Linked DNA regions of Homo sapiens. The protein of the gene in region 1 purifies or fractionates together with the protein of each later gene. This does not show direct contact. Each region holds a gene or a part of one and is shown in the gene's direction. Other genes may lie near its edges.

Region 1 (2,570 bases):
CTTTAACCCATGAGGATGATTCAGACTTTCCTTCTTACAAACTAATATCACTAAAAATGGAGCAGATCTGTGAAATAGCTAAATGATGGAAACTTAAAGTTTAGCCCTTTTCATTTAACTTAAGAAATTCACTATATTTTCTGGACTTATAGAGTTTCAATAAAATCTAGACATCAATTTACATTATTCATAGTAACCTTATCAAATGTCACTTTTCAACTTCCCTAATTTATTTATACATTCGATAATTTGACAACATGCAGATTTTTAAATGTTTGCATTTAGTATTCATTTTAACATAGTACAGGGCTAGTTCATGAATATCTGAAATTAAAGGGAAAAATATTACAGAAACATTTTATTTATTGAGTAAAAATAAGATTTTAGACATACATGTTAACTGTATTTTAAAAGTTGCCATAATGTTTATAAAATTCTGAGATGATTTTTATATCTTAGAAGGTAGATAATCATCACTCAACTTTAATGTAAAATAAACCTCAAAATATCTGAAATTATTAATTAAGGAGAAATGTAGATTTTAAGATAAATCCAACTCTTATCAACTCTTCCAGCCTCCCACATGATGGGTGGAAAAAGGCAAAAGCCCAGATTAAGTAACTGTGAAGATACAAACTAACATACAATTAAATTTGAAAAGTATAGTCAAGACAAAGCAAGTATTTATAATTAGATTTTGCTTCTTCTCTGACGCTTTTAAGCAATAAAATCTTTTTGAACATTCTTGTTTATAAACTACTCAGCCATGTCAAGCAAATCATTCAAGCAAAATCTAGCTGAAAAGTCTGAAACATTCTTAAAAGCTTTGTTGTTATTCTAAGTCAGCCAAAATCCTGGTATCCCTCTTCCAGATAAAGAGCTCCCACTGAGAATTGTAGTCTATGGATTTTACCTTGACTGCAATTGTCTTTCCTTCCTATCTGCTTGTTGTTTGTAGGTTCTTTTTTTGTTTTTCTCAAATGCTAGTGATATTTTGTTTACAGATTCTAAAAGCAATGCAAAATTCTGTTGGCTTTATTTTCAGCAGAGTTAAAACTGATTTCATCATATTATCAGTATGTCATCTTTATATTTATGACTGACATCTGCTATTCCAGTGTTTATTGGAGACTTGTGAATGAATCTGTCCAGGACACTTGTCAGTTCCTACCTGAATCTCTTACCTATTGAGATTTGGCCAACCAGAATCTCCGAGGGCAAAAATTGCCCTTGGTGATGGTTCAGTAGTCATTGATTTTTAATGAGTAGATCAAAAAAGTACCCATACCTTTACATGCCCGTAGGCTGTCATTTTCCCTCTCCAGCCTATATCCCTATTTTATGGACTTTTCTAGAACCTAATCGCTAATGATAATTATGCCTCCCCATCTTCTTAATGAAGAATATACCATTCTTCTGAAACTTGTTTTTACGTGCTGTTTCATGGAGACTATGCTATCCAGAACCTCATTCTAGAGTGCGCTTTTTTTTTTTTGAAAATTGGCCTTATCTACTCCAGCAAGACATTTTTATCCTGTTACTATAACAGTAAATGAATGCAAGCAAATATTTGCAGGAAATACCCTAAAACCCTACCTGCATGACAGTAAGCAATCTATGTTAACTGACTTTTCATTCTGGTATAAATATTAATCTTGGCATCATATAAATAGAGCACCAGAGTGACCCAACCCCAAATCACACAAGCACATGTGTGTTTATAAACACATACCCACATGTTCATAAATTGGTGAAAAAGGGGATTGGAATATACGAGATTTTTTCATTACAGAAAGGACCTAATATCATTGAGCATCGACTATGTCTCAGGTATGCTGGTAGGTAGTCAATCAACATTATCTTCATCACAATTTCACTACAGCTGTAATTTCTCTGATGATTAGACCAGTATTCCTGTGACCTAATTCCTAATTAATAAAAAGTTATGGATTTTGCAGAATGATTATATCAGGTGTTAAAAAATACAATTAGTTTAACATGATATACACAGAATACAAAGATGCTCTTCTTATCTTTGGAAATTTAATGTATGGGCTGAATTCTTTCACTTTAATTTTTAAAAAGTTATTTCTCAAAAATCTGTTAGTTTTAGACCACATGGGAAATTCATAAGAACTCAGTTCATAGTGTTTTAACTCTAAAGCAAATGCCATTTTAAAATTAAATGTTCCTATATAATGTCCAATAGATATTTGAATTTACACAGAAGAGATATAACTTTTTAAAATATTCTTTATCACACTATACTCAATCATAAAATATTTCCACAAATAATCAAAACTTAATATACCACCAAATGAGAAATAAAGAGCTAGTTTAAAATTTGCTGGTGAAATCAAGTAATGTTATTAAGAGCCCTCCTTAATAAAAATTCCCTGTGTTCTTTTGTTACTTCCAATTTCATTAATTGCTGAGGGTCTTTGGTTAGATATCATACCTGAGGTAATTGAGTAAAGGGCACAGATCATGAATAAAATGAACAAACATAAATTCCCTCTTAGGACCTAAGGGCTGTGAGTATATTTCTAGACCTTAACATACAAGGCAAA
Region 2 (3,829 bases), on another chromosome or scaffold:
GAGGGTGAGGGCCAGATGTATGGTAGGTTTAGTTTGCTGGGTGACCATCAGGAACAGGTTCTCCTCTGGGGCTCCACTTTGGGGTGACCAAAACTTCCCACCACACACACACACATACATACAAGGCTCCACTTCAGGGTGACCAAAACTTCCCCAACACACACACACACACACACACACACACGACTTGTGTTGCTATCGCTGCAGGTTTATGTGCGAAGCACAGACTTTGACCGGACTCTCATGAGTGCTGAGGCCAACCTGGCTGGACTCTTCCCTCCCAACGGGATGCAGCGCTTCAACCCGAACATCTCGTGGCAGCCTATTCCTGTGCACACTGTGCCCATCACTGAGGACAGGGTAAGAGTGGCCAGCCCTTCCCTGGGGTGGTGAGGGGACAGCTCTGGCCGTAGGCCTGCTGATGCCAGGCTCCTTTTCCCGCTGCCTGTTTCCCCGCTTCGCTCTACAGCTGCTGAAGTTCCCGTTGGGCCCATGTCCCCGTTATGAGCAGCTGCAGAACGAGACCCGGCAGACACCAGAGTATCAGAATGAGAGTTCTCGGAATGCAGTGAGTGGGGGCAGAGGTGCAGCTCACCACGCTGTCTTTTCCCCAGAGCAGGACTGAGACCCTGATCCATTTTTCATAGCAATTTCTGGACATGGTGGCCAACGAGACAGGGCTTACAGACCTGACACTGGAGACCGTCTGGAATGTCTATGACACACTCTTCTGTGAGGTGAGCCCACTAGGGTGCCCACTGTGATCATTCTTTTCCCTCTCAGCAGGCCCAGGTCACCAGGACGGTAGAACACAGTGCCTGATACCGTCACGCCCCTGGGGAGGTCCAGGGAGGCTGTGCTTGTGAAACACGGGAACTTCCCTCATGGGTGACAGAGATCCTCAGAGTGGGAAATGGTTTATTAATTGTCAGCAGTCCCTGCTGCTCTCCACCCAGAGCTCCTTTCTGCTGAGTCTCACTTTTTGTGCCTGAGCTTCCTTTCCTGTGCCCTGAAGCATCCACACCGCCTGCCATGTCTACTGGTTCCAGCCCCTCTGCCTCTCTCCCCTCTCCCTCCCTCACACACACAGGCACCTTCCCACTAGGGAAGAGAGCTGCCCCCTGGAGAGGCTGGCCTAGGCCTGGGGCGCTAACCTGCCTGCTGCGATACACAGCAAACGCACGGGCTGCGCCTGCCGCCCTGGGCCTCACCCCAAACCATGCAGCGTCTCAGCCGGCTAAAGGACTTCAGCTTCCGCTTCCTCTTCGGAATCTACCAGCAGGCGGAGAAGGCCCGGCTTCAGGGGGGTGAGTGACAAGGACAGCGTGTCACTCTACTCCTCAGGACCCTAAGGCGTTAAAAATCTGCTGTGGGGGCTTCTCACACACTTCCCTCTCTACTGAAACACTCCCTGCTCTTTCAAAACCAAATCCCCCTCCTCATGCCGCTAGTCACCAAATTTCCCCACCTCTCTTCCTTTTCTGCCATTCATATTCTTTTTAAAAAAATTGTTATTTTTTTTCGGGGGGATGGAGTTTCCCTCTTGTCACCCAGGCTGGAGTGCAATGGCTCGATCTTGGCTCACTACAACCTCTGCCTCCTGAGTTCAAGCAATTCTCCTGCCTCAGTCTTCTGAGTAGCTGGGATTGCAGGCACATGCCATCATGCCTGGCTAACTTTTGTATTTTTAGTAGGAACGGGGTTTCACCATGTTCGCCAGGCTGGACTCAAACTCCTGACCTCAGCCACCATGCCCAGCTAATTTTTGTATTTTTAGTAGAAACAGGGTTTCACCATGTTGGCCAAGCTGGTCTTGAACTCCTGACCTCAGGTGATCCACCCACCTTGGCCTCCCAAAGTGCTGGGATTACAGGCATGAGCCGCCATACCCAGCCTATTTATTTTGAGACAGAGTCTTGCTCTGTCACCCAGGCTATAGTAGAGTGGCACGATCTCGGCTCATTGCAGCCTCCACCTCCCAGGTTCAAGCGATTCTCCCGCCTCAGCCTCCTAAGTAGCTGGGACTACAAGTGCCTGCCACCACGCCCAACTAATTTTTATATTTTTAGTAGAGATGGGGTTTCACTATGTTGGCCAGGCTGGTCTCAAACTCCTGACCTCTGGTGATCTGCCCGCCTCAGCCTTCCAAAGTGCTGGGATTACACACATGAGCCACCACGCCCAGCCCTGCCATTCATGTTCTTAAGTTTCGCCCACATCAGAAGACCCTCCCTCTCCTAAATGAATAGCTGCCCCAAGAGAACCACTGGGGGCCATTTTGAGAAGGCTGAGAGTAACACACATGCCAGCTTCCTTATTTGAGCACCTAAGGGCATGCCTGCTGTCACACCTTTTTGACATCTCACTTTTCAGAGCATATGGTAGTTACCCGGGCATGCACCCACCCGCTGTGTACTCTGAAGCAATCTTAAGTTTACATTTGTTTCAAACTGAAGTGCTTCTGTAAACACAGGCAGGTTTCTACATCCGTGTTGAAATATAGGCAGATATCTTGTTTTGTCTTGCTTCCTTCTGTACATTTGACAGTTCTTAGAGAGGAGGGGTGCCACAGAGTTCTTACATGGTCCCTATGACACTAAAGAGTTCTCCGTGTAGGTGATGAGGCCCAGGCCTGGCAGAGGGTGAAAGGAGCACAGATAGGTCTAATTAGAAGGCAGAGGTGGCTGTAGCCAGCAACACCGGGGACTTTTCTCCTTCAGGAGTCCTGCTGGCTCAGATAAGGAAGAACCTGACCCTAATGGCGACCACCTCCCAGCTCCCCAAGCTGCTGGTTTACTCTGCGGTGAGTGCCTGCGCTCCCTAGCGTGCTGTGTCAGGCAAGGAGCTGGATTTCTTCTCTGTTCGGTTCCTGCGGGTGTGGGGAACAATGCTGACGGGCAGCCCCTCTCCCCCGCAGCACGACACTACCCTGGTTGCCCTGCAAATGGCACTGGATGTCTACAATGGTGAACAAGCCCCCTACGCCTCCTGCCACATATTTGAACTGTACCAGGAAGATTCTGGGTGAGTGGAGCTAGCAGTGTCCTCTGGAGGGGGGCCCTCGGGAGGTGGCTCGGGGCAGCCCAAGGACCCCATGATGGGCAGGCTGAGCAGCTCCCATGTTGCCTCCTGTCGACCCTCAGGAATTTCTCAGTGGAGATGTACTTTCGGAACGAGAGTGACAAGGCCCCCTGGCCGCTCAGCCTGCCTGGCTGCCCTCACCGCTGCCCACTGCAGGACTTCCTTCGCCTCACAGAGCCCGTCGTGCCCAAGGATTGGCAGCAGGAGTGCCAGCTGGCAAGCGGTCCTGCAGACACAGGTGAGCTGTCACCGGCCTCCTTGCTAGTCATGCCCTAGACCAGCCTGCAGTTCACATCCACGCATCTCAAGAGCTGTCGCACTTCCAGCCATTTGACTGCATTTGCTAGGAGTTCCCTCCCCGACCCCAGACTGCTTTATACCTTCTCCCCACTTCTCACCCTCGGGTGATGTCTCACTTGTATCACCGAGAAAATAAGAGCCAAGAGAGAATTGGCTCGTTCTCCCACCACCAGGTTACTTCCTGGGGGAAGCCACCGCTTAGGGTGGCCTCTCCACCCGCACTTGGGTTCTCTCCTCATCTCTGCAAGGAGCTCTGACGCCTCTGCTTCTCTACTGGATCACTTCCCTCCCAAAAGCCCATCCATGACCTCTGAGAGCCACCTCTTCCCCAGCCACCAGCCTCTTCCCTCTCAGAATGGAATCCTTGAAAGAGCTGCCTAGAATCTGGCTCTGCTTCCTCACCACTTGTTCTCTTAGACTCACATTAGACAGTCTTGTGTCACCTTCC

What was found.
Region 2: the proteins of TRHR (region 1) and ACP2 purify together in Homo sapiens (affinity purification with mass spectrometry; 3 studies listed by BioGRID and IntAct, with this or other methods). This does not show direct contact.

Annotation. Positions count from the first base shown.
Region 1 is NC_000008.11:109,119,600-109,122,169, forward strand, and holds the end of TRHR (thyrotropin-releasing hormone receptor), read left to right. Parts: 3' UTR 1-1,966; downstream 1,967-2,570. UniProt on the Homo sapiens protein: Receptor for thyrotropin-releasing hormone (TRH). Upon ligand binding, this G-protein-coupled receptor triggers activation of the phosphatidylinositol (IP3)-calcium-protein kinase C (PKC) pathway.
Region 2 is NC_000011.10:47,242,213-47,246,041, reverse strand, and holds part of ACP2 (lysosomal acid phosphatase isoform 1 precursor), read left to right. Parts: intron 1-207; coding exon 208-360; intron 361-469; coding exon 470-568; intron 569-619; exon of another isoform or gene 620-647; coding exon 648-737; intron 738-1,174; coding exon 1,175-1,307; intron 1,308-2,720; coding exon 2,721-2,803; intron 2,804-2,917; coding exon 2,918-3,024; intron 3,025-3,143; coding exon 3,144-3,319; intron 3,320-3,829.